3 separate regions of the Homo sapiens genome follow, and regions 2 and 3 are each linked to region 1. The links come from fine-mapping of genetic effects on gene expression. A gene starts in region 1. Each other region holds a variant in brackets. All regions are shown on one strand. Distances are from middle to middle. Region 1 holds the start of LYST (lysosomal trafficking regulator). Region 2 overlaps LOC105373215 (a long non-coding RNA gene). Region 3 overlaps LINC02768 (long intergenic non-protein coding RNA 2768).

What was found. PIP is the estimated chance that this variant, and not a neighbour inherited with it, causes the effect. A credible set is the group of variants that fine-mapping cannot tell apart.
Region 2: its variant is the best candidate, but not a certain one, in a credible set for the expression of LYST in esophagus mucosa (GTEx, PIP 0.71).
Region 3: its variant is the best candidate, but not a certain one, in a credible set for the expression of LYST in whole blood (INTERVAL, PIP 0.66).

Annotation. Positions count from the first base shown.
Region 1 is chr1:235,862,771-235,870,952 of GRCh38, forward strand. It overlaps LYST (lysosomal trafficking regulator), which reads right to left and starts at 4,136. Exons shown (of 53, transcript NM_000081.4): 1 at 4,073-4,136. It also overlaps the pseudogene RNU5E-2P. RefSeq lists enhancers at 3,194-3,243, 3,614-3,713 and silencers at 3,834-4,253, 4,304-4,603.
Region 2 is chr1:235,895,531-235,903,712 of GRCh38, forward strand. The region is part of intron 2 of LOC105373215 (a long non-coding RNA gene); the gene reads left to right. Among named protein-coding and RNA genes, the nearest start is that of LYST, 33 kb to the left of the region's middle. RefSeq lists a silencer at 7,585-7,785. The variant A/G (reference allele first, on the strand shown) is at 4,769.
Region 3 is chr1:235,939,404-235,947,585 of GRCh38, forward strand. The region is part of intron 2 of LINC02768 (long intergenic non-protein coding RNA 2768); the gene reads right to left. The region is part of intron 2 of LOC105373215 (a long non-coding RNA gene); the gene reads left to right. Among named protein-coding and RNA genes, the nearest start is that of LINC02768, 29 kb to the right of the region's middle. RefSeq lists a silencer at 7,235-7,304. The variant A/C (reference allele first, on the strand shown) is at 4,538.

The DNA.
Region 1 (8,182 bases):
GGGCAACACAGCAAGTCTCCATCTCAAAACAAACAAACACACACACACACACACACACACACACACACACACACACACCCCTTCAAGATAAAGTGAGACTACCATAAAACCAACCACTTCTGCTCGGCTCATGAGAACACTTGTTCTATTTTATAAAATGAGGTGTTGCCTGATTCTACAATGGCAAAGGTGAAGTAAGATCTTTAAGCTAAATTTGTTGTAATTTTGTCTTTTGACATTACAAAGTATTAAAAATGAGTCATTTCCTTTGTAATTTTGCAAATGGCCAAGTAAAGCCACACTTGATAACATTTTAGGGCTTAAAAAAAATCTTGAACTTGGCCCAGCACGGTGGCTCACGCCTGTAATCCAGGCACAGTTGGGGGCCGAGGAGGGCAGATGATGAGGTCAGGAGATTGAGATCATCCAGGCTAACACAGTGAAACCCCATCTCTGCTAAAAACACAAAAAATCAGCCGGGTGTGGTGGCACACACCTGTAGTCCCAGCTACTCTGGAGGCTGAGGCAGGAGAATTGGCTGAACCTGGGAGGTGGAGGTTGCAGTGAACCAAGATCTCGCCTCTACACTCCAGCCTGGGTGACAGAGCGAGACTCTGTCTCCACGGAAATCTTTAGTAAAAGGCGAAAGATTTATACAATTTGAAGAGAAACCAGAGAATGACTCTGTCTAAAAAAAAAAAAAATGTTGAACTTAAGCCGGCAACCAGATAATTCAGGAAAAGATTAATCAGATGAAGGTGTTCAAGTTAAATACAGCAACAGACCAAAAAGGTACTCTGAAATTCCAGACTATATGGCTCTCTCTACAACCGAAGCTAACAAACACACTATGTGAGTGCAATCAAACAAAAATAAAACTACAATTGGGAAAAGAATGACTAGGTTGGTCCAAAAGAATTAAGAAGAAAATAATCATGAAATCAAAGCTGGCAGTTTATGGGTGAAATTTTTAACCCCCTGGTATAGTCAAGGTAACGTAAAAAGTGTCTTCAAAACAAAGTCACTTGTGTTTACTACTAATAATCTCAGCTTTGACAAAAATTCTTTGCTTGGCCAAACTTACTCAGGCTTTTGAATTTTCTGTGAGGCCCATCTGTGCACTTCCTTGTAAAATCCAGTATTAGCAAAGAACCCTGCTAAGTCTGTTTAGCATAACATCCTGGATATCTAATCATCCTAAATATCTGATCAGGTTCCTCATCCTCCACCATTCCCCAGGTAATGTCTGATCGCCCTGGCCTGTCTTCAGCAAGAATCCCGTTAGGTCGGCTTAGCCAGAATCCCCCTTATCCCTGATGTTTCCTTTTAGCAATTTTCCATCCACGATCCCCACACTGCTGCTTGGCTATAAATTCCCATTTTCTCATGCTGTATTCGGAGTTGAGCCCAGTCTCCCTCCCCTACTGCAGGGCCCCACTGCAGAGGTCTCTATACCTATTGAGATGGTTCTGAATAAAGCCTTACTTACCATTCTTAAACAAGTATCATTGAATATTTTTTTCTTTAAAAACGTGAATGTCTAATTTTATTGTCTTCTAACCAACTCCCACCCTTCTCCCCACCAAACCTACTCCTCTCGTAAACCTAATCTCAGTAAACAAGTACCCCATCTTTCTACTTGTTCGGAACTAAATTTTGGTGTCTTTTACATCTCTACCCTCAATTTATCCTGAAATCAATGACCTCTCACCACCTCCACCAATTCCACTCTGGTCCAAGCTACATTATCTCTGGCCTGGATTAGGGCAACAGTTCCGGATTGGTATCCCAGCTTCTGCTCCTGCTCAACCCTTCCCCTACAACAAAGTCTATTCTCCATCCAGCGCCCAGAATGATCATTTTTAAAAGGCAAGCCTGGGGCCGAGCGCAGTGGCTCACGCCTACAATCGCAGAATGTTGACACGCCAAGGTGGATGGATCGCTTGAGCCCAGGAGTTTGAGACCAGCCTGGGCAACAATGGCGAAACCCCATCTTTACAAAAAATTAGCCAAGCATGGTGGGTGATGTGTGCCTGAAGTCCCAATTACTTCAGAGGCTGAGGTGAGAGGATCACCTGAGCCTGGGAAGTCGAGGCTGCAGTAGGTTGTGATCATGCCACTGCACTCCAGCCTGGGAGACAAAGTGAGATCCTGACTCAAAACTAAAAATAAAAGGTAAGGTTCTTTACTCAAAGAGTGGACTCCCCTTTCCACTGAGAGTAGAAACTCAAGTCCTTAAAAGGGCCTACAAGGCCTTATACAGTCTAATCTCCCACCACACTCACCTCTTTGACTTTATTTCTACTCCTCTTTGCTTTTTCCACCACAGCCAAATCAGCCTCTCTGCTGTCCTCAAACAAGCCCAGCACACAGGGCTTCTGCAAGCCCTTCTGCCTTCCTCTCTGCTAGCACATCCTTCCCTCAGAGAGGTACATGGATTACCCCTCACTTACTTCTGGTCTTGGCTCAAATGATATCTTTTCTAGGAAGCTTTCCCTGGCTGCCTCTAGTTAAAATTGCAAACCTCTCCCGGTTCCCTGCCCTCCCTCTTCCCTGCCCTCCCTCTTCCGTGCTTTTTCTCTGTAGTACTTAACACCATCTGACACAGCACATATTTTATTTGTTTATTATCTGAGGTCCCCACTAGAATATAAGCTCCATGAAGGAGCAGATATTTATGTTTTCTTAGAAAAGTATCTGACACGCAGTAGGTGCTCAATAAATATTTACTAAATACATATATATAATTATATAGTTTGTGAAGTATTTTTATGCAAATTACAGCAATTCATTTTTCCTTATGCCCTCTCTTCTTCAAATTCTCCAATCTTTGTAGTAACAATATGGATGACAGCAAAGAGCTATCAGAAAAAGAGTTGTTGGCCACTTAACAAAGCTCTTTAAAACAGATACCCCATATTAATCAACTACATCTATAAATTGAAAGCTTAAAGTCAACATCTTTATTAGCATAGATGAATCTAGGCGTGGAATTTTAAAATAATAGCGCAGAAGAGCCAAGAATCATCAGGAAGAAAAGTCTAATTCAGTTTGTCCTATCAATCTGTTAAACAAACAATAGGAAAATGCAACCTGCATTTGATCTTCAAGGAAACACTGGCCCAAATTCAACACGAACGCATTCAACACAAGATTCGACTCCCTTAAAATTTTCTATCTGCTTAAAACAAACCCCATTAACTATCAAGTGCCGTCGCTGGGTGTGTATGGTCTGCCGAGCGGATCGGGGATGTTTTGCTATGTTTTGTTTAACCAGATAAGAATTAGCGTTAAGGAAACGTTTCTTAAAGCCTCTGTATCCCCTGGACCATTAAACAACCCCTTCGTTGGGCTTTACACTGTGGTACCGGGGTCTTCTCGGGTAATTTCCCAGCTTATTTAACTCATCAGAAGCGAAGGGGCATCTCAGTCAGGCTCCAGTGATACCGGAGACAGACGGCAGATGTCTCAGGGGATCCCCTGGAAAGAGAGGCTCTCGCCCAGTCAAAGGGTGTCACGGACAGGAGGAAAGAGCGGACCGAGGCGCACGGTGTAGGTGACAGGTGGGCGAGCGCCGCAGGGCAACAGCGCGGGGAGTGACCGGCTGGGTGGTGGCGCGGAAACCGTCAACTCCCATCGTCAACCTGACAGCTTGGGCCCAGCTGGGCTGAGTAGTGCAGCGGCACAGGATCAAAAAATAAAATAAAGGTAGCAACACACCGCCGTCAGCCTGCTCGACCTCGCCCCCCGCGCGCTGCGAAATAAAGTTAGTGCCCAGTGGCCGCTGCAATGGCCCAGAGGGGCCCAGCCGAGCTCCCGCCCGCGGCCCGGCGGCTGTCAAAGGCGGCCCGGCGCCGCGAGAAGTCCCAGAGCCCAGAAGCCAGAGAGGACGCCCCGAGCTGGCGCGTCAGGCCGAGTGCCCTCGCGCCCTCGCGCCCTCAGCCCGGCGGTCCCGGCCCTCAACCCAGGCTGACAGCCACCAGCCCCAAACCGCCTCCCCTCCAGGCCACGCAGAGGGGCCGGGACCCGGAACCTTCTGCCGGCAGCGTCGGCGCCCGGCGGCCGCCTTTACCTGGTTTGTGGCAGCTGCGGCCGCCGCGCACTCCCCCTCTCCCGGAGAACCCCGAGCCGACGCCGCTGCCGCCGCCGCCGCGCACTCCCCACCCCCGCCCGCCCAGGTAACCCAGGAAACCGAGAACACCACCCCCTCCCTCCCCTCGTCCGGACCCAGACCCGCTCGTCTGCGCGTGCGCCCTTGGCTCCGCCTCGCGCGTGTAAGCCCCGCCTCCTCTGGGAGGGCAGCGCCGGCGTCGCAGGCGTGACGCGTGGAACTGCCGAGCCAATAGGGAAGGCAGGGGGGCGGGCCGACCCGCGGGGCTGCAGCCGGGGCCCGGTCTGGGTTTCTCAGCGGTCGGGGGTCGTACCCTGGGTCCGCACCTCCTCCCAGGGCTCTGCGTAGTGGGCTGCGTCAGACCCTGGGGAGTGCGAGCACCGTTTGAGAAGCACCAAACACAAGCGCATCGTCCGCCTCTTCCATTCAACACAGACTGTCAACCTGTCCCATTGTGTAGGTCTAGAGGATGAAGATAGAAGAAATAACGGGAAGGAGTCAGGAGAGGGAGAAAGGGTTACCCACAAGGCACCCCTAGCCTTCCTCTGGGACCTGGAAAAAGCCATATTGTAATGGTTACCGTCGGCTTCTTTCAAGAAACAAAAAGAGCTTTGCAAAGCCACTGCAGAAGTAATTCAGTGCAGTGGTGTATTTTCCAACCGACTCCTGTTCAAACACGGTTTGTATACAGTGCGCACTGTCAGTGTCATATGCCCTAATAGACCAGTCCCTCCAGAGGGTGGGAGCTGTAGGTAAAATCCAGGATGTTTTGGCTGCATCCCCGGCTCTGGGCCCAGCACGCTGCTGGCAGACTGCTGCGGTAGGCAGTTTGGCATTTCAAGGGCCACCCTCCTCACCTCCTAGTCACTGAGACAGCAACGCCAGAGGTACTGGGAAAAAGCCTGAACTGTAATCGTTCGGTAGTTTTCAAGTTCTGCCAAACAATACAAACTATTAATAAGCAGATAATCTACAAATTGACAGGAATTGCTGTAGAATCAACAACTCCCATAATTTTTTGCACAGGAATTATGAAATAGAAATAATTCAGGATATTATGTCCCAAGCCTATATACCAAATGTTACTCCCAATTCCTCAAACTCCCATCTAACCCAATGACAAGCAAAGTGCGTTAAGTTGCCCACTGATGTGGTTTAGAGGGTGCTCTTGGGGAAAATTCCCCACTTTAAAATATGTCTTCTCTGACGTCTGATGTTTAACCATTAGCAGTTCATATCTTTAGGCGAAGATTGCCCACTTCCTCTGGCAGGTAGTCTTTTATTTTTATTTTTTATCTTTTTTTTTTTGAGACAGATTCTCGCTCTGTCGCCCAGGCTGGAGGGCAGTGGCCGGATATCGGCTCACTGAACCCTAACAAGTGCAGGAAATAAATGTCTCAGGGAACTTATCACTCATTTAAGCAGTATATAATGAGCACCTACAATGCGCTAAGTATTGTGCTAGGTGCATGGGCCTGAACTGAAACAAAAAGAGGAAGCCAAACTTAACCTGTTTCGTCATTTTACCTAAAGCTGTGTCTACTCTTATTTATACATCAACTTTCACCCACTAATCTTAAAAACACCCCCCTTTTTTAATGGACAAAAGAAGTCAAAGAAATATTAAGTAACAAGCCAGTTTCTGTTAACCTTGAGTAGAAAATAATAGATTATCATGATTTCATTAAAGCAAAGAAAATGAGACAGACTTTAGATGATAATGGTATACAATTGGCCCTCAAAGTATTATTTGTTTGTAAAAGGCACAAAGTAATGCCATTTGTGACTATTATTTTTTTCGGTACCAGTGTTTTTTATTTTATTTTATTTTCAAGATGCAGCTTCACTCTTTTTCCCTGACTGGAGTGCAGTGGCACAGTCTCGGCTCACTGCAACCTCCGCCTCCCGGGTTCAAGTGATTCTCCTGCCTCAGCCTCCCAAGTAGCTGGGATTACAGGAATGTGCTACCATGCCCGGCTAATTTTGTATTTTTAGTAGAGACAGAGTTTCATCATGTTGGTCAGGCTGGTCTCGAACTCCTGACCTCAGGTGATCCACCCACCTCTACCTCCCAAAGTGCTGGGATTACAGGCATGAGACACCGCTCCTGGCCTCGGTTCCAGTATTTTAACTAAGCTACTGCAGTATGTATTTTATTCAATAGTATCTTAGAACATCGATACTAAATATACATATCAAATAAAACTTAGTTTAAAAGATTTCCTAGGAACACACACAAAATGTGTAGTGAAGAACATGAAAAAGAAGAAAAAAGTAAAGTAATAGGTATATAGAAGAAAGCTCTACTTGGCCGGGCGCAGTGGCTCACGCCTGTAATCCCAGCACTTTGGGAGGCCGAGGCGGGCAGATCACGAGGTCAGGAGATGGAGACCATCCTGGCTAACACGGTGAAACCCCGTCTCTACTAAAAATACAAAAAATTAGCCGGGCGCGGTGGCGGACGCCTGTAGTCTCAGCTAATCGAGAGGCTGAGGCAGGAGAATAGCGTGAACCCGGGAGGCGGAGCTTGCAGTGAGCTGAGATAGCGCCACTACAGTCTGGCCCGGGTGAAAGAGCGAGACTCCGTCTCAAAAAAAAAAATAATAATTAAAAAAGCTCTACTTACGCATGTATCACATGCTGGAAAACTTTTTAAGCAGGAAAGTCTTCAGCTAATTTGACTCCAGAATTATAATCTTCAATGAGATTGTAACATCCCAGCTTAAAACAACACAGTCAACGTAAATGTGCATAATTTCACATTTAATTATTCTCCAAAACACCTTTAAAAATTATTTGTGACTAAATGGATATATAAATCAAATCATGTCACATCTCTGCTCAAAAATCTGCATTGGCTCTCCGCTTCTCTCAGATAAAAGCCAAAGTCCTTACAATTGGCCTACAGAGCTCTAACACCATCTGGCTCCTCAAAACTTCGTCTCTTTCTACTCTCCCATCACTACCTACATACCTGCTTCTTTACTGTTTACCAAACATGCCAGATACAGTCCTGCTTTAAGGGCTTTGCACTGACTGGCCGGCCCCTCTGCTTGAAATTTGTTTTCTCCACATGGCTGCAGTTGTTAACTCCTTTATCTCCTCCACGTCTTTGCTCAAATTTCACCTCTCAATGAGGTCTACCCTTAATACTGCCCTTAAACTAGGCAAGAGGGGCCTCTGCCCTGGACCCCACACATGAATGGACCTCATCTCACAAATGTTCCCTAAAACAATAGTATTAAAAAACATGTATGTTCTCTGTCCCTTCTTGGGGGGTGTGGGGAGGTGGGTGGCATTGGTGAGAGTTGACACAGTTGTTAAATCAAGTTTAGCCTAAAGCTGCCTCCTTGCATATTTTAAGTTCAGCCTAAAGGTTTTTCTGTACATCATGAGCTATAACAAATGAAGGTGTAAACAGGCCATAGCCCACACCTGTGTCAATCCCTGAGTTTTGGCCAATCAAATGTAGCCAACTGTTTGAACTGTGTTCTAATAAAGCAAACGCTGAGCTGCAACCAACCCAGTTGTTTCTGTACCTCACTTCCATTTTCTGTATGTCACTTTCCTTTTGCTGTCCATAAATCTCCCACCGTGTGGCTGCGCGGGAGTCTCTGAGCCTACCTTGGCTCAGAAGGCTGCCTGATTCACGAATTGTTTTGTGCTCAATTAAACTTTAAATTTAATTTGGCTGAAGTGTTTCTTTTATCACAGTGTAACCTGTAACTCTAAACATCATCTCTTTCATAGCACCCATCAGCTTCTAACATACTACATAATTTGTCTATTTCTTATGTTTATTTTCATTGTCACCCCTGTTTAGACTATGGGCTCCACAAGGGCCACAATCTTTGTTCTATTTCTGATGTATCCCAAGGACCAGAACAGTGCCTGGCACTTAGTAGGCACTCAGTAAATATTTGGATAAATAGTTAAATTAAGAAAATTTTGTTGAAAATTCAAATAAATATCCAAACAGTAAGTTGACCATAATTTTGGAGCTGGACAATCTTAATGCCTACTGCAATGCATGGGAACAGAAATGGATTTGTGAAGTGGTAGAGGAATACA
Region 2 (8,182 bases), 33 kb after region 1:
AAAAGTTAACATTTTTGTGTTTGAGATGATGGATATGCTGATACTGTGATCTGATCATTATATATTATAAATATCAAAACATCACTATATACCTCATGACTATGTACAATTATTATTTATTAATTTAAAAATGTGAACTTCTTTTGATTTAGAAACATTAGACACAACAGATTTTTAAAAAACAGCAACAGGCCAGGTGCGGTGGCTCACACCTGTAATCCCAGCACTTTGAGAGGCCGAGATGGGCGGATCACAAGGTCAGGAGATCGAGACCATCCTGGCTAACATGGTGAAACCCCATCTCTACTAAAAATACAAAAAAAATTAGCCGGACGTGGTGGCGGGCGCCTGTAGTCCCAGCTACTTGGGAGGCTGAGGCAGGAGAATTGCTTGAACCCAGGAGGCAGAGCTTGCAGTGAGCCGAGATCGCACCACTGCACTCCAGGCTGGGCGACAGAGCAAGACTCTATCTCAAAAAATAAATAAATAAAATAAAATAAAATAAATAAAAAAATAAAAAAAAACAGCAACAACAAAATCTCCACATATGCCAATATCTGGAAATAACTCCTCTTAATATTTTGGCATAGACTCTTCCAGAATTTTTTCTATATGTATAAACATACATTTTACAAAATGGGATCATACCGTGCATCTTTGAGTAACCCCATTTTCTCACTATTTCACTCTTACAAATACTGACAAACAAGACTTTTTCAAACATCTTGGCTCAGTAGATCATTTATTTATTTATTTTTAGGATTCCTAAAACTGGACATGGTGGCTGTAGGAGGATGCGCCTCTTTCAGTCATTGGATTTCCCCTGGAAAGACAGAATGAATTCACATTCTCACCTGCAGTGGGTGAGAAGTCCCTTTTCCCCCACTTCCTTGCCAAAAATGGATATTATCATTCCTTTTCATCTTTGCCAGTCTGGAAGTTATGTGCAACTGAACACAAGAATTACAGAAGAGGCCGGGCGTGGTGGCTCACGCCTGTAATCCCAACACTTTGGGAGGCTGAGGCGGGCAGATCACTTGAGGCCAGGAGTTTGAAACCAGCCTTGGCAACATGATGAAAACCTGTCTCTACCAAAACACACACACACACACACACACTAGCCAGATATTGTGACACACACCTGTGGTCCCAGCTACTCGGGAGACTGAAGTGGGAGGATCACTTGAGCCCAGGAGGTTGAGGCTGTAGTGAGCTGTGATTGCACCTCTGCATTCCAGCCTGAGCAACAGAATGAGACCCTGTCAAAAAAAAAAAAAAAAAAAAAAAAAGGAGGCAGCTGGGATTTAAGAACCAATTCAGGGATAGAACAAAATTTGGGCTCCATCCCAACTCTGAAGCTCAGTTTCTTCAGCTGTAAAATGGGGTAAATAATAATCTTTCCAAAGGGAAAAGTTAAATAGCTTAATCCTAGTCCTAACCACCCCCAATGGCTCTCCCTTCTTCCCAAATTCCTTTTCAATCTTGTCTCCTCCCAGCAGCCTGAGTATTCCAATATGAATGTAAATCACATGACATGGTTTGTATCTGTGTCCCCATCCAAATCTCATGTCAAATTGTAACCTCAGCGTTGGAGGTAGGGCCTGATGGGAGGTGACTGGATCGTGGAGGCAGAGTTCTTATGAATGGTTTAACACAGTCTCCCCTCGGTGCTGTGTAGGGGTTAAGTTCTCTTGAAATCTGGTTGTTTAACCGTGTCCAGCACCTCCCTGTCTCTCTCCTCCTTCTGCTCTGGCCATGTGAGATTCATTACTCCCCTTTGCCTTCCACCATGATTGTAAGTTTCCTGAAGCTTCCCCAGAAGCTGATGCTGCCGTGCTTCCTGTACAGCCTGCAGAACTGTGAGCCGATTAAACCTCTTTTCTTTATAAATTACCCAGTCTCAGGTATTTCCTTATAGCAGCGCAAGAACTGCACTGATTAATACATCACACCACATCATCTCTGTCTTAAAGCTCTTGCTCAGCCAGCTGTAGTACTTAGAACAAAATCTAAACTTATCCTGGCTGACTTGGGTCCACCTGCTCTGTCTTTGCCTGCCCCACTGTAGATACTGTCGGGCTTTGCTTTCATTTGCCCACCTTTAAAAAATTATTATTGTTATTTACTTTTCAAATTTATTATTTTTTTTATTTTAAAATGTTTATATTTTTAGAGACAAGATCTTGCTTTGTTGCCCAGGCTGGAATGCAGTAGTGCGATCCTAGCTCACCGTCGTCTCAAACTCCAGGGCTCAAGCAATCCACCTGCCTCAGCCTCCCAAGTAGCCCAGCTAATTTTTTTTTTTGAGATGGAGTTTTGCCCTTGTTGCCCAGGCTAGAGTGCAATGGCAGGATCTCAGCTCACTGCAACCTCCACCTCCCAGGTTCAAGTGATTCTCCTGCCTCAGCCTCCCATGTAGCTGGGATTATAGGCAGGCGCTACCACGCCCAGCTAATTTTGTACTTTTAGTAGACATGGGGTTTCTCCATGTTGGTCAGGCTGGTCTTGAACTCCCGACCTCAGGTGGTCTGCCTGCCTTGGCCTCCCAAAGTGCTGGGATTACAGGTGTGAGCCACCACGCCTGGCCACTAATTTTTATTTTTTACTTTTTGTAGAGACAGGGTCTCATTATGTTGGCCAGTCTGGTCTCAGACTCCTGACCTCAAGCAGTTCTCCTGCCTCAGCCTCCCAGAGTGCTGGGATTACGTTGTGAGCCACTGTGTCCCGTCAGCCCACATTTTTGAGGCTGCACTGGCCTCTGGGTTTCTTGAATGGGCAGTCCCTCGGGCCTGTGTCCTGGGATGCTCCTCCTCCCTCTCTTTCCTGTCCTTGCCAACTTCAGCTTAAAACCACATCCTCAGGGAGACCTTCCCTGTCCTCCTGCTATTTTCTCTCCCACCATCCTGTTTAGTCCCTTCACAGGGACTTATTACTATGTGTAATGATACATTTCTTTGCTTACTTTTGTGTTTTGTCTCCCCACCACCTGGTAAGCTCAATGAGAGCAGACATAAGGCCTTCTGAGTTTGTTGCTATATCCCCCAGCACCTAGGTCTGCGCCTCATTGTACATGCTCAACAAATATTTGTTGAATGTGTGAAAATAAGTATTTCAAAATCAAGGCTGTTGGAACTTTAAAATATTATGAACCTTGAAGGAGTGTGATTATGGGACTCAAGTTACATAAATAGGCAGCTGTAACCTTTGTTTCTCTGATTATAGATTAGCCTTCTTTCTTACCCACATTGTTTTGTAAAATGTTGTAAATGACTGAAGGGTGCCAGGGAAGATCCCTTCCACCTTCACTATTGATCTTCATTATAGATTCACTTCCTTCTTACCTTTCTGACACAAAGACTTCATAACTATCTCATTGTCTAAGATGAAATGTTCTAATCCTACTAAATTTCTTTGTTTTCTGCCTGTATAAGCAAGACTTTAATTTTTTTTTTTTTTTTTTTTTTTTTGAGACAGAGTCTTGCTCTGTCGCCCAGGCTGGAGTGCAGTGGCGGGATCTCGGCTCACTGCAAGCTCCACCTCCCGGGTTCACGCCATTCTCCTGCCTCAGCCTCCTGAGTAGCTGGGACTACAGGCGCCCACCATTATGCCCAGCTAATTTTTTGTATTTTTAGTAGAGACGGGGTTTCAGCATGTTAGCCAGGATGGTCTCGATCTTCTGACCTCATGATCTGCCCGCCTCAGCCTCCCAAAGTGCTGGGATTACAGGCATGATCCACCACACCTGGCCGACTTTAACTTTTTTTACTTTAGATCACTGGCTCCACTTCTTTGAAGTCCGTGTTTCCTGGATGGCTATTCCTGGCTTTGAGCTCCAATAAACTCTATACCTAATCATATGTTCTAAATCATGTTATTTAAGGTTGACAAATGAATCAATAACTATTTCACTTTTCCACCAGTTTGGTGGTGGGTAAACCATAGCATGGTAACAGGGTGAGATAGCCACCAATTCTCTGTAACCCATCCTTCTGGGCTGCTCTCTTCCTGGTCTGAAATCTTCCCAGGCCATTTCTGATCTCTCTCATCCCGCATCCCCAAGTTGTTGATGGTATCACCTTCTGCAGCTCTGAAATGAAATATATGCTGTCTGGTACTGTTCTTTTAGTGTTGGAAGTGCCTCCTGCCACCTTAGGGAACTATATATGAGTTTACACTAATCTAGTTTCTTCAAATGGCACACTGTCTCAAGGGGGTGGGAGGGCTCAATAAATATTCATCAATTCAGCATTCATTTATTAAGTACCTACGAAGTACCAGTTATTATATTAAACACCTAGGATACAAATACAAATAAGGCACAGCATTTCCTAACTTCAGGGAGCTCACAGTCTAGGGAAGGGGGCACATAATTGTAATATTATGTAGCAATTGCAGTGGCTTGCTATGTAAAAGACAAAGGGCGCCAGGCACACTGGCTCATGCCTGTAATCCCAAGACTTTGGGAGGCCAAGGTGGGCAGATCACTTGAGTCCATGAGTTCGAGACCAGTCTGGCCAACAGCCCGGGGGTTTAGTAGAAACCCCATCTCTACTAAAAATACAAAAATTAGCCAGGTGTAGTGGTGCATGCCTGTAGTACCAGCTACTCAGGAGTCTGAGGCAGGAGAATCGCTTGAACCCGGGAGGCAGAGGTTGCAGTGAGCCAAGATCTCACCACTGTACTCCAGCCTAGGTGACGAAGTGACTCTATCTCAAAAAAAAAAAAAAAAAAAAAAAAAAGACAAAAAAAACACACAGGGGGGCCAGGC[A/G]CGGTGGCTCACGCCTGTAATCCCAGCACTTTGGGAGGCTGAGGTGGGAGATCAGGAGATCAAGACCATCCTGGCTGACATGGTGAAACCCTGTCTCTACTAAAAATACAAAAAATTAGCCGGGCGTGGTGGTGGGCGCCTGTAGTCCCAGCTACCCGGGAGGCTGAGGCAGGAGAATGGCGTGAACCCAGGAAGTGGAGCTTGCAGTGAGCCGAGATTGCACCACTGCACTCCAGCCTGGGCGACAGACCGAGACTCTGTCTCAAAAAAAAAAAAAAAAAAAAAAAAACAACCACACAGGGGAAGGATACTGAACCCAGTCTGAGGAAGAGGAGGAGGAGGAGGACAGCAGGCTTCCTGGAGAGGTGCCATCTGATCTGAGCGAGCCAGATAAAGAGGACAAAGGCATTAGCAGAAGAGGGAACAGTATCAGTCCAGGCCTGGATGGAGAGCAGCATTCTGTGGGCAAGGCAACAGTCAGCAGTTTAGTGTGGTTAGAAAATAAAGTGCAAGTCAGAAAGTGCTGAAAAATAAGTCAGTGAGATGGGCTGGTGCCTGTTCAGGGAAGCTGCTGAAAGTTAAGGTCAGCAGCTTGGACATTTCTGTAGAAAGAGATCACTGAACATTTTAGCCAGGAATGGGGTGGGAGGTGTTGGATTTGGGGAGGACGCATTTGGAGGCAGGGAGATCTGGTGAGATATGACCAGGATCTGCCCTGGGTCAGTGGTAATGAAGAGGGAGAGTCAGGCAATATGTTTAAGAACCTTTAAGAGGTAAAACTGGTAGGACTTGGTGATTGATTAAATGTGGAACAGATTGCAGAGAGAGAAAAAGAGAGAGAGAGAAGTCAGTAGCTTGAGTGACCTCATTATGATGGAATCCCATCGACAAAGAGAATACCAGGGAAGCGGTTTGGTGACATGGGGGACGTGAGGTGACACTTTGGTTTGGGATATGTTGAGTCTGAGGTGCTTTGGGGGATGTAGAAACAGCTTTGATTTTGAATTACTTATTGTTACAATATAATGGCAAGATGTATGGTTTGGGGATTAGCATCTCCCTTCACTGAGCTCACTTGTATTCAGCGGTTCGTATATTTCACCATGGTAGGTGCTAGGAGTGCCCCATCCAGGTCCCTTTTGCTGGCTGATGACAACTCACAGCCCCTCCTTCTCCTGGGAGTCAAGGCTCCCAAAAGGCAGTCTGGCCCAGACATACAAAAGCTCAGCCCCCTGCATCAAGGAGGCATTGCCTGTGTGGTGCACTTTGGGTTTCCCAAGCTCCCTGGAGGGATCAGCCTGAAGCTGGTCTCCAGATGAGACCACATCCTTCCTTGACTTTCCCCACCCTGTGCTCTCTTGCCTCCTCACTCGCCTCCTCCTGAGAACACTGCCCTGATGAATCACTTGCTCAAGAATCCTCCTGTTCTTGGGAACCCCACCGAAGACACAGGAGAAATTGGGCAATTGGGAGTTGGTTGGCCACAGTTTTAGGAATCCACAGTAAAGAGGGGGCTGAAGGTGAATTTTATTCCTCTGGACAGAGCTGATAGTGAAATGAATGATAGTGGGGTTGCCTTTATCCACAGTAGAAGGTCATTTGTGTTATTTTTATTGGTTTTTAGTTTATTAGTTTTATTAAGCCACAATTCTAAATCTCTGAGTCAAAAGCATTTGTCAAAATTCCTGCTTACGGACTATTAAAGTTCCTGAGTTTGGAAGGAGTTCTTTTTTCCTAAATTCCACGTTGCCCTTCCCTTCTTTACTCTTCATGTTTGAAATGATGTCACTGAAAGCAGGTGCTCTTTGGTGGTTGAGATGGACCCGCCTGTCACCCCTAGACTGGATCCATTTTCTCCCTTGAAACCTTGTAGTATCTTTTTGCTTCTCTAAAGTAGCAGTTCTGGGCACTGTCCATGGAATTGCCCATTTCTTGCCTGTTTAGTCAAAGAAGACTCGAGAACTGAGCATAATTCAGAGTTAACACAGCCTTCTTCTTTGTTATCTCATCGAAAAGTGCTTACAAAATATTTATTGAATGATAAAAATGAAAGATTAAATGAATGAGTGATCAATATTGCCCAACCAGGCAAGTTCCATATAAATGCAAATTGGCTTTCACTGTGCAATGTCCTTTCGCTGTATGTCTCTTTAATCTGTTTGCCCTATCGCCTCCAATTGGTGGCAAAGACTACATCTTCTATTTCCCTTTTATCCCTGCAATAGACTATAGAAATCGTGTTTGATGGAATAACTAATTAGTCAGTCAACATTTATTGATCGCCAACTATTTTAAGGGTATTTTAAAGATGGGGATTTAAAAATAAATAAAACACAGTGGTCTTTAAGGAGCTCATGATGGCCTGAGTATACAATTTGTTCTTAAATAGAGTGACTTGCTAAATGCATAAATGCATTTGATTTAATATTTATTCCTTTGTAAACTTCTCATAGAAATAAATTCACAAATAATTAAAACATCCTTTTGCAGATCACGTGACTGAATTTTGTCAGCAAATATGGCCGGCACGCCAATCAGGCTCTGGCTGTAAATGCAATCAATCCATTACTGCTTAGCTAAAAAGGCAAAGTTGCTGGTTCAAGTCCTACTGTGTGTACCTGCAGGGGAACTAAGGTCTCCACTGTGGGGTGTGTGTGAGTCTGAATCTAAATTGCAGGCTGGGAAGCTGACTTTAAACAGCATGCTTCTTTAAAGTTCTGAGAGTAGGTTCCTTGCTCCAGGCCTTGAAATGAAATCAAAGCTGGCTTTGGCCTTGGTTTTAGCTTTGGTCTAGTAATAGCCTGATAGGTACATCTACAGTAGCTTTTTTTTTTTTTTAATAACTCTTTCTCTTTAAAGACAGGAACACTTGGTATTTCTCGGTGTCTGTGAGGTGAGTCATGCATTTTATAGGCGCAGAAATTGAAAGAGGAGTGACTTGCGTATGGTCAGAGAGCAAGTCCAAGACTACGGTGAGTCCAGCACCACAGGGCCACCCAGAACTACTTGGCCTGCTGCCCATCCTCTTGTCTCTCCACTGCACTAGGCATAAATGTCAGTAAAGAAAGCAAGTGTGGCCCATTGAGAGAAAATGTGGCACAAGCCAAGAGTTCACAGCACTTGAAGTGGTAAAGGCAGATCCAGGTTGAGGCTCTGTTCTGCCCAGTTTATGATGAAATACTGATAGTGGATTTCTTCCTTTTCACCTGTTCCTGCCCCACTTGCCTGTCAAAGTCAGCCAGCACACTTTCCTCAGCAAATGGGTGGTAGGTTCTGGGCAAAACAATGTTATAATAAAAACAGAAAAGGTAAACCATGCCATTGGCTCTGACTGCCTTAAAGGGTTTTTGTCTCTAAGCTAGAAGACATGCTTTCTTGTACTTTCCCTGTCGAGATGGAGGCATTTCACTTGTC
Region 3 (8,182 bases), 77 kb after region 1:
GACAGCAGAGTGACAGGTACTGTTGATAAGCCTCTCGATAGACAGACTGACAGTCAATCAATATCTACTGACTCCTACTATATAGGGAGCTTTATACTGGCTTCTGAGAGATACTCATGGCTTCTCTCCCACAAAGAGCTTACGTTATTCTGTGAGCCATGACACATGTTCAAAACATGTAAGTAACAGTGCAAAACAAGAGTGGTAGAGTGTCAGGAAAAAATGCCATAGGAATCAGCAGAGGGAGAGCTTTCTATGAGGAACCCTGGTGGGGGAGGTTTCACAGGGGAGGTGAGCCTTGGAGGATGTATTTCATTCACACAGGTAGAGGAGGGCAGCCCTTGGAGACACTGTGAGGACAGAGTGTCAGTGCAGAAATGGCAGGTTCTGTGAGGACATAACAGGGTGTCTTGGGTGGAGGTATTTCACACTAGGAAATACTGAGCGTGAAGGCTGAATAGGGGACTTGGAATGTAGCCATTAAAAGAGGATTTTGGCCAGGTGTGGTTGCTCACCCCTGTAATCCCAGCATTTTGAGGGGCTGAGGCTGGAGGATCATGTGAGTCTGGGAGTTCGAGACCAACCTGGGCAACATAGCAAGACCCTATCTCTACAAAAAATTTAAAAAATTAGCCGGGCATGGTGGTGGACACCTGTGGTCCCAGCTATTTGGGAGGCTGAAGTGGAGGATCTCTTGAGTCCAGGAGGTTGAGGCTGCAGTGAGCTGTGATCGTGCCACTGCTCTCAAGACTGGGTGACAGGGTGAGCCTCTATCTCTAAAACAAAAGATAGCTTTAAAAATGTATAAATAATTTAATTTTTTAAAAATGAAGGGGGAATTTAACCTTTATGCAATTATGCTCTACAAGGTGGTTGGGGAGAACAGGGATGAGATGACACTGCCTGGGGAAGGTTAGTGTGGCTGCAAGGTGCTGGGTACATTAGACAGCAAAGAGCTGTGGGTCAGGGAGTGGATGAGCACCCAGAACTTGGTGCTGGCAGAGCGAAGAGATCAACCCGTTGGCTTCCCCACCCTCATTCTCCTCCCAACTGACCTGCAAGTCACAGCACTGCAGTATCATGTCGACACTCACTGCTGGGTACGTAGCTTAGGCTTTCACCACCCCACCACCCAACCCGGTTTCATCATCACGCTTCTGGCCCTTGGTCCCACTTCCCTGCCCTACTTATGGCTACCAGAATTCTCTGGCTATAAAACCAATGGTACCATGTCTTCATGCTACTTTAATACTCAGGCAACTCAATGTCTGTAGGATAAGTCCACACACCTTTGTAGGGTAGACGAGGCCCTTCAATGCCTGGCTGTGCCTACTCATGTTCCCCTCTCACCTTGCACCCTTGGCTCCAGACTGATGACCTCACAGTTCCTCCTAAAAACAATGTGTATGACCCACTGTGCATTTCTGGAGCTGTACCTTTGCAAACAGATTTCCTTCTTTGCAGAAAGTCTTTTCCTATTTGCGTTCCTACCTTTTCTTTGGGACTCACTTCAAACATATCATCTACCATCTATCATCAAACATATCAGCTACCTTCAGGAAGCCTCCCTTCCTTGATGCTCAGATTCCTGGCACTGAGAGCCTGTTGGCTCTTCCACTGTTCCTGTTCTGTCTTCACTTGTTTTTTTATTATTTATTTATTTTTGAGATGGAGTCTCACTCTGTTGCCCAGGCTGGAGTGCAGTGGCGTGATCTCAGCTCACTGCACCCACCACCTCCTGGGTTCAAACAATTCTCCTGCCTCAGCCTCCTGAGTAGCTGGGATTATAGATGCCCGCCACCATACCCAGATCTTTTTTGTATTTTTAATAGAGACGGCGGGGGGTCTCACCATATTGGCCAGGCTGGTCTCGAACTCCTGACCTCAGGTGATCCGCCCACCTCGGCCTCCCAAAGTGCTGGGATTACAGGCATGAGCCACCGTGCCTGGCTCCATTTGTTTAAATATCTGCTTCCTCTGCAAGTGGTGAGCCCAGGACCTGATTCTCATTCTACGTATTCCCAGGGCTTGATGGGACTCATTGTTCATAGGAAGGAGCTTGATAGTTGTTTGATGAATGAATGAGCAAGGGAAAAAGGATAAAGAGGAGCGAAAAAACGAAGCCGGGTTTTGGGGGTATTGGAGCAAATTAAGTGGGGGATACCATGTGGAGATGTGGCCCCATCAAGACCAACCCTGTCCCAAGAATGGCTCAGGTTTGCCTTGCTGGGGTCTTTGCTCCACTGTTACCAAACCCCCCACCCTCTGAATTGAGCTATGGGTTCCAGGAAAGGCACCCCTGTCCTGAGTTGACTGCAGCGATCACAACTGCAGACAATCATGATTCTTTGAATCCCTATTTTGATGTTAAAGCCAAGAAAGAGCATTATAGAAACTCAGGAAGAGAAAATAAATTTAGCCATCATCCCACGACCCCGGTACAATTACTATTATTTTTCCATTTTTCTTCCAGTCTTTTTCCTTATGTCTATAGCTTTAATTATGTTTTTCTGTATGAAATATAAGCAGGAAATGGAAATTTTCTAAAGGACTTCTTTTATTTGCCTCCCACTGTTTTGCATACAATGGACACTTAACACATAACTTTAGGCAGACTGAGGCGTCTCCTGATGAAAAGCTTTTCTCAAAGGCCATGTGGTTGCTGCAATGAGCCTTCTAGAGGAAGCTGGTTATAACCTCTCTCCATCACGTCCAGCCCTCTCTTTCCCGCCTGGCTCACACACTTGCCTTCCTTTAAATAATATTTTTCATTCCTCCAATCAGTCATTTGATCAACAAACATTTAGTGGGCGGGAACTGTCCCTAGGCCCTGGGCTGGGCCCTGTATTTACCGCCCTGTGGTTCATCAGCCCTCAGCCTGGTGCATCCACGCTGGTATCAACCTGATGGCCCCAGAAGCTTCTGAAAACTCATGAGCTTTCCTGATGGTTTATCCCTCAGGCCTTCTCCAACTCAAACTAAGGTCTGCGTGTACCTTGGCCCCTTCTTTTGTGCTTGTTGTACCCAGAAGCAAAATAATTGTCTAGCTGTCCCAAGAACGGCCAACCGTTGAGATTGTGTCAGCGAGTCTTTGTTCAGTTCCTATAAAGGATGGCCTATTAGGTAATACATCCATTCCAGATGGAAAACAGGCCTTTCGAAAGCCCGAAATAACCTATTGCCACATCCCCCTTTGAGCCCACAAATGGTTCTTTCACTATGAAAGAACAAACTAACTAGAGCCTCAAAAATGTCTTTCCTAGCTTTAATAAGTGGGGATTCTGGCCTCGGGGTCATACAAGGATGATCACACATGAGGAAAGCTCAAATGAACAGAGTTATGCCAGAGATGGCTGGCCTGGGCAAAGCTGGCATTGCTCTCGGAGGGAAGCCAAGTTTTTCCAATTGTTATTCTTGTGCCATAGGGCAGATCAGCTGGGGTGGGCCGGTGAACGCTGCACTGTCACATCACGATGCTTGGAGCAAGGGGTTGCTTGAATGGAGGCAAAATGCTGCGTTGACTTAGGAGGAAATCATCTTAAACCCTGAGATCTGAAGAGCTATGTTTAGCTGGGAAGTGATGGAGCTCTTCAGCTTCTTCATAAACTCACAAACCCAGGATGAGGCTAGAAGAAAGTCAGATTTCTTATCTGCCAGAACTCTTGCTGGGAAAGATGTCACCAAGGTATTCCCCAACATTACCAGGCCTTCTGTAAAGCACCTTCTTCATGCTCCCGGGCCCATCACACACATGCACATACACGTACACACGTACACACACATGCACATGTGCACATGTATACATGTGCTGTTATGGGCTGAATCTCATCCCCTTCCCAAATTTATATGCTGAGTCCCTAATCCCTAGTCCTTCAGAATGCAACCTTATTTGGAAATAGATTCTTAAAGAGGTAATTATATCAAAATGAGATCTTGAGGGTGAGTCCTAATCCAGTCTAACCAGTGTCCTTATGCAAAGAGGAGATCAGGACATGAACACGCACAAAGAGAAGGCCTTGTGAGGACACGGAAAAGACAGCCATCTGCAAGCCCAGGAGAGAGGCCTCAGGAAAAACCAACCCTGCCAACACCATGATCTTTTAAAAAAATTATTCGTCTTTTTAGTTGAGATAAAATATACATATATAACTTACCATCCTTACCATTTCAATACCATGATCTTGGCCTTCCAGCCTCCAGACTGTAAACTAATAAATTCCTGTGGTTTAAGCCACGCTGTGTGTGACGCATCGTGATGATACCCAAGCAGACTGACATACACACTCACACAAGCTCACATATTCACACACGTACTAATACACACCCTCACCCAAAAACACTGACACACAGAAGCACTCACACACACAGATGCACTTACACTCGGTTCTCACCCTCCTGTGTCACCCACACAATCCTTATCCCCCCATCCCTGACACACACATGCTCCCTGAGGCCAGACACGTGGACTGTTGTGGCTCAGGACCTCACTGAGGCCAGTTCTCTTCCGGAGCACAGCAATGGTTTGCTGTCTGCTAAG[A/C]TCATTCCTCTCGCTGGAACCTTGGGTCCGTCCCTGGGGCTCATTGCCTGGAGTGTGGCTTTTTGCATCCTCACATTTCCTGAATGCTGTACTTTGTTTTCCTGTCTCCCAGCTTGGATCTCCTGACCTTGGCCTGGACCTGGATCTGGGAGGCTGACTCTATTGACCATGGGGAAGGAGCTAACAGGATTGAACCTCAGGACCGTCCTCTGCAAAATGAGGAATTTAGGCTAGCACAGTGGTTCTCAAAGTGTGGTCCCCAGACCAGCGACCTCAGCATCGCCCTGGAACTAGTTAGAAATGCACATTCTCTGGTCCCAACCCAGACCTACTGAACCAGTGCCTCTGGGAGTGGATCCCAGAAATCTGTGTTTTAACACACGTGCTATCTAGGAGGTTCTGATGCAGGCCAAAGTTCGAAAACCGCTGAACTGGAAGATCTCTAAAATTCCTCCTAGGAGATAAACCTTTAAGACTTGCTATAAGAATTAAGTGCCATGATTATGGTGCATATTATTTATGAAACTTGTTCAATGTGCCCTGCCCTTCCTATTCATTATCTCTACAACCTCCTTCTAAAATAAGTATCAATTAAAAGTATTTTCCAAATGAGCAAAAGGAGGCCCGGAGAGGTTAAATAATTCATCAGGAGACACGCAGCTGGAGATGAACAGGAGGAGGATTTGAATGGGAAGCCATCTCAGTGTGCTCTCTCTACTACCTCCCATGAGCAAACACAGTGACAAGTGAACTCAATGAATATCATTTTCCGGTGATTCTGTGACCTTTGAGTACCTGCATCCTCCTACCTTAACCAACTTTGCCAGCCTCCTTCACTGCCCTACCTGATCGACAGTAATTTCCAGCTCTCTTCCTTCCCCCATGCTCAGCCCAACACCCAGCCCTGGCTTTCTCACCTTCCTGGGACCCCCTGCGTTCCACGGTAGTGAACAGAGACACACGACAGCCATTCCGTGGATCTACAGTGACTGTTCTCCTGGACACAGAGCCAACGTGGCTACTGAAGGAAAGAGGCCAGTCCTAAGTTCAGGATCTGTGACGGCCTGGAAAATGTACTCTGTCCCCCCACAACCTCCCGCTACAACCTCCCCCTAAAAGAAAAACTTTCTACAGGTGATGTTGAGATTGCCACAGGCTTTGGTCCTCACAGACTGCAAATACCTATGGGAGAAAGAATGCTTCCACAGAGGAGCGCCGAGGGGAAGGAGAGCACCTCACTGGGATGGGATGGGAGTGGGGTGACAGCACCGCCCAGAGGCATACAAGCTGGCCTCTCTCTGGTTTTGTGGAGGCGGCCCTTGCTGGTATCCTAGAGTTGTCTCCCTGGCCTGCTTAGCAACGCACAGCTCCTAGGGGCCATCACCCACTAGGAGGGCAGGGCCTTTTGTCTTTTTTTTTTTTTTTTTTTTTGAGACAGAGTCTCTGTCTATCACCCCAGCTGGAGTGCAGTAGCATGATCTCGACTCACTGCAACCTCCGCCTCCCGGGTTCAAGCGATTCTCCTGCCTGCCTGAGCCTCCTGAGTAGCTGGGATTACAGGAGTACGCCACCAAGCCCGGCTAATTTTTTATTTTTAGTAGAGATGGGGTTTCACCATGTTGGCCAGGCTGGTCTCAAACTCCGGACCTCATGATCCACCCACCTTGGCCTCCCAGAGTGCTGGGATTACAGGTGTGAGCCACTGCACCCGGCCAGATTTTTGTCTTTTTACTGTTGTATCTCCCCACATAGTAAGTGCCTAATCAATTGAGTTGAATAAATGAATTCTTGCCCCATCTACCAGATTCTACCTCAGGGGCAGCTTCACACACACATACATACACACACACACACACATACCTACACACACACACACACACACACACATACATACACACACACATATGCATGTGCACTCAGGCACACACGCATGTGCTCACTCACACATGTACTCATGTTCTGGGGCCGGCACAGAGGCTGGGGGAGAGTAAGGAAGTGGGGAGGGGCATCTTTGGCAGGGGAAGGGTGCTGGTAGGACAAGAGCAAAGCGCAGAGGGACTGAGGGGTGGTGAGAACGGATCTTCTCACAGTTGAGGCCTGTAAAAAAAAAGAAACCACACGGAGGCTGAGGGCAAAGTGCCCTAAATTGGAAGTCTGGCCTAAGATCTGACGATGAATGGTTTTCAAACTCTGGAGGCGGTCTGCTTACGAAAACTCTTGTTTGCACTGAGTATACAGAAAGGGCACTGAGTGGGGCAAAGATGGCCCCACATGCTTGAACTTGCCTGTGAGTCTGGACTCAGACCCAGTTGTAGGGTGGACCTGTGGGCGGGGCTAATTTTGTAGTGTCCAGAAGAGCACCAAGGGAGTTTTTGTGAATTGGACTTCCACCCTAAGCGATACTAGGTTTAGTTCCATTTTCCGTCTGGAGAGAAGTCCTTTGCAGCATTTCGTTTGGCGGAAGAGTTTTGCATAATATTTCACACAGTGTTCCTTGCACAAGCTTTCATTACCCCATGACCAGGCTAGGGACTCCCCGCCTTCTATGACCAGGTGAAGAGTGAGTCTCCTACTCCAAGCTCCCCCTGTTCGCCTGGTTTTGATGCCCTGTTTCAGTGCATCATCTGGTAATTTCGTGACCTGCAATCGGCAGAGTGGGCTCGACTCATCTTCTATTTCTATGCTGCCCACTGTGTCCTTCTGAAAGGGCTGAGCCCTGGGTCTGGTAATTTTGGACTGTCTGCAATTTGGAATGGGTGTGTCACTACTGCCCTCTAGAACCAGGTCTTGGTTATTGATTGCAGCTCCCAGAAAGGAACCCTGCAAACACAACCCTTGGTTAAGGCAGGCAGTCTGTCTTCTCCTTTTCAATAATAACTTCATGTTTGAGGTTAATAAGTGGAGGTTCTTTAAAGGGCACACAATTGAGGCCCCACACTCCGCTAGCTGCTTTCCCGTGAGAACTTCCAACAGGGCTGTGGTTTGCTGTTTATAGAGAAGGGGTGAAGAGCCAGGGCTGGAATGTGCATTATAAATGACAACGTAGGCCAAGCATGGTGGTTCACATCTGCAATCCCAGCACTTAGGGAGGCCGAGGTGGGAGGATTGCTTGAGCCCAGGAGTTTGAGACCAGCCTGGGCAACATGGTGAAACACTGTCTCTACTAAATATACAAAAAATTAGCTGGGGATGGTGACGCATGCCTGTAGTCCCAGCTACCTGGGAGGCTGAGGTGAGAGGGATCACCTGAGCCTGGGAGGTTGAGAACTGCAGTGAGCTATGATCGCACCACTGCACTCCAGCCTTGGTGACAGAGTGAGACTCTTTCTCAAACAAACAAACAAACAAAAGATGGCAATGTACAGTTGCTGGACAAACTGCCTCACTGGAATTCAACCTTGGAGAAGTGATGGATTTTTCTTAGTGTTGGCAGAGCCGTATGGTTAGCATGCTCCTCTGCCTCGTGTTTTCGTTTAAGTCCTCGTGCTTTCCTCCTTGTCCTAAAGTAGTCAGGGACCAAGTTGCACAGTCTCTGCATCCTCCATGATACCTGACACAGTGTCTGGAACAGAGAAGTTGCTCAATAGGGAATTTTCTTTCTTCTTTCTTTTTTTTTTTTGAGACAGAGTCTCACTCTGTTGCCCA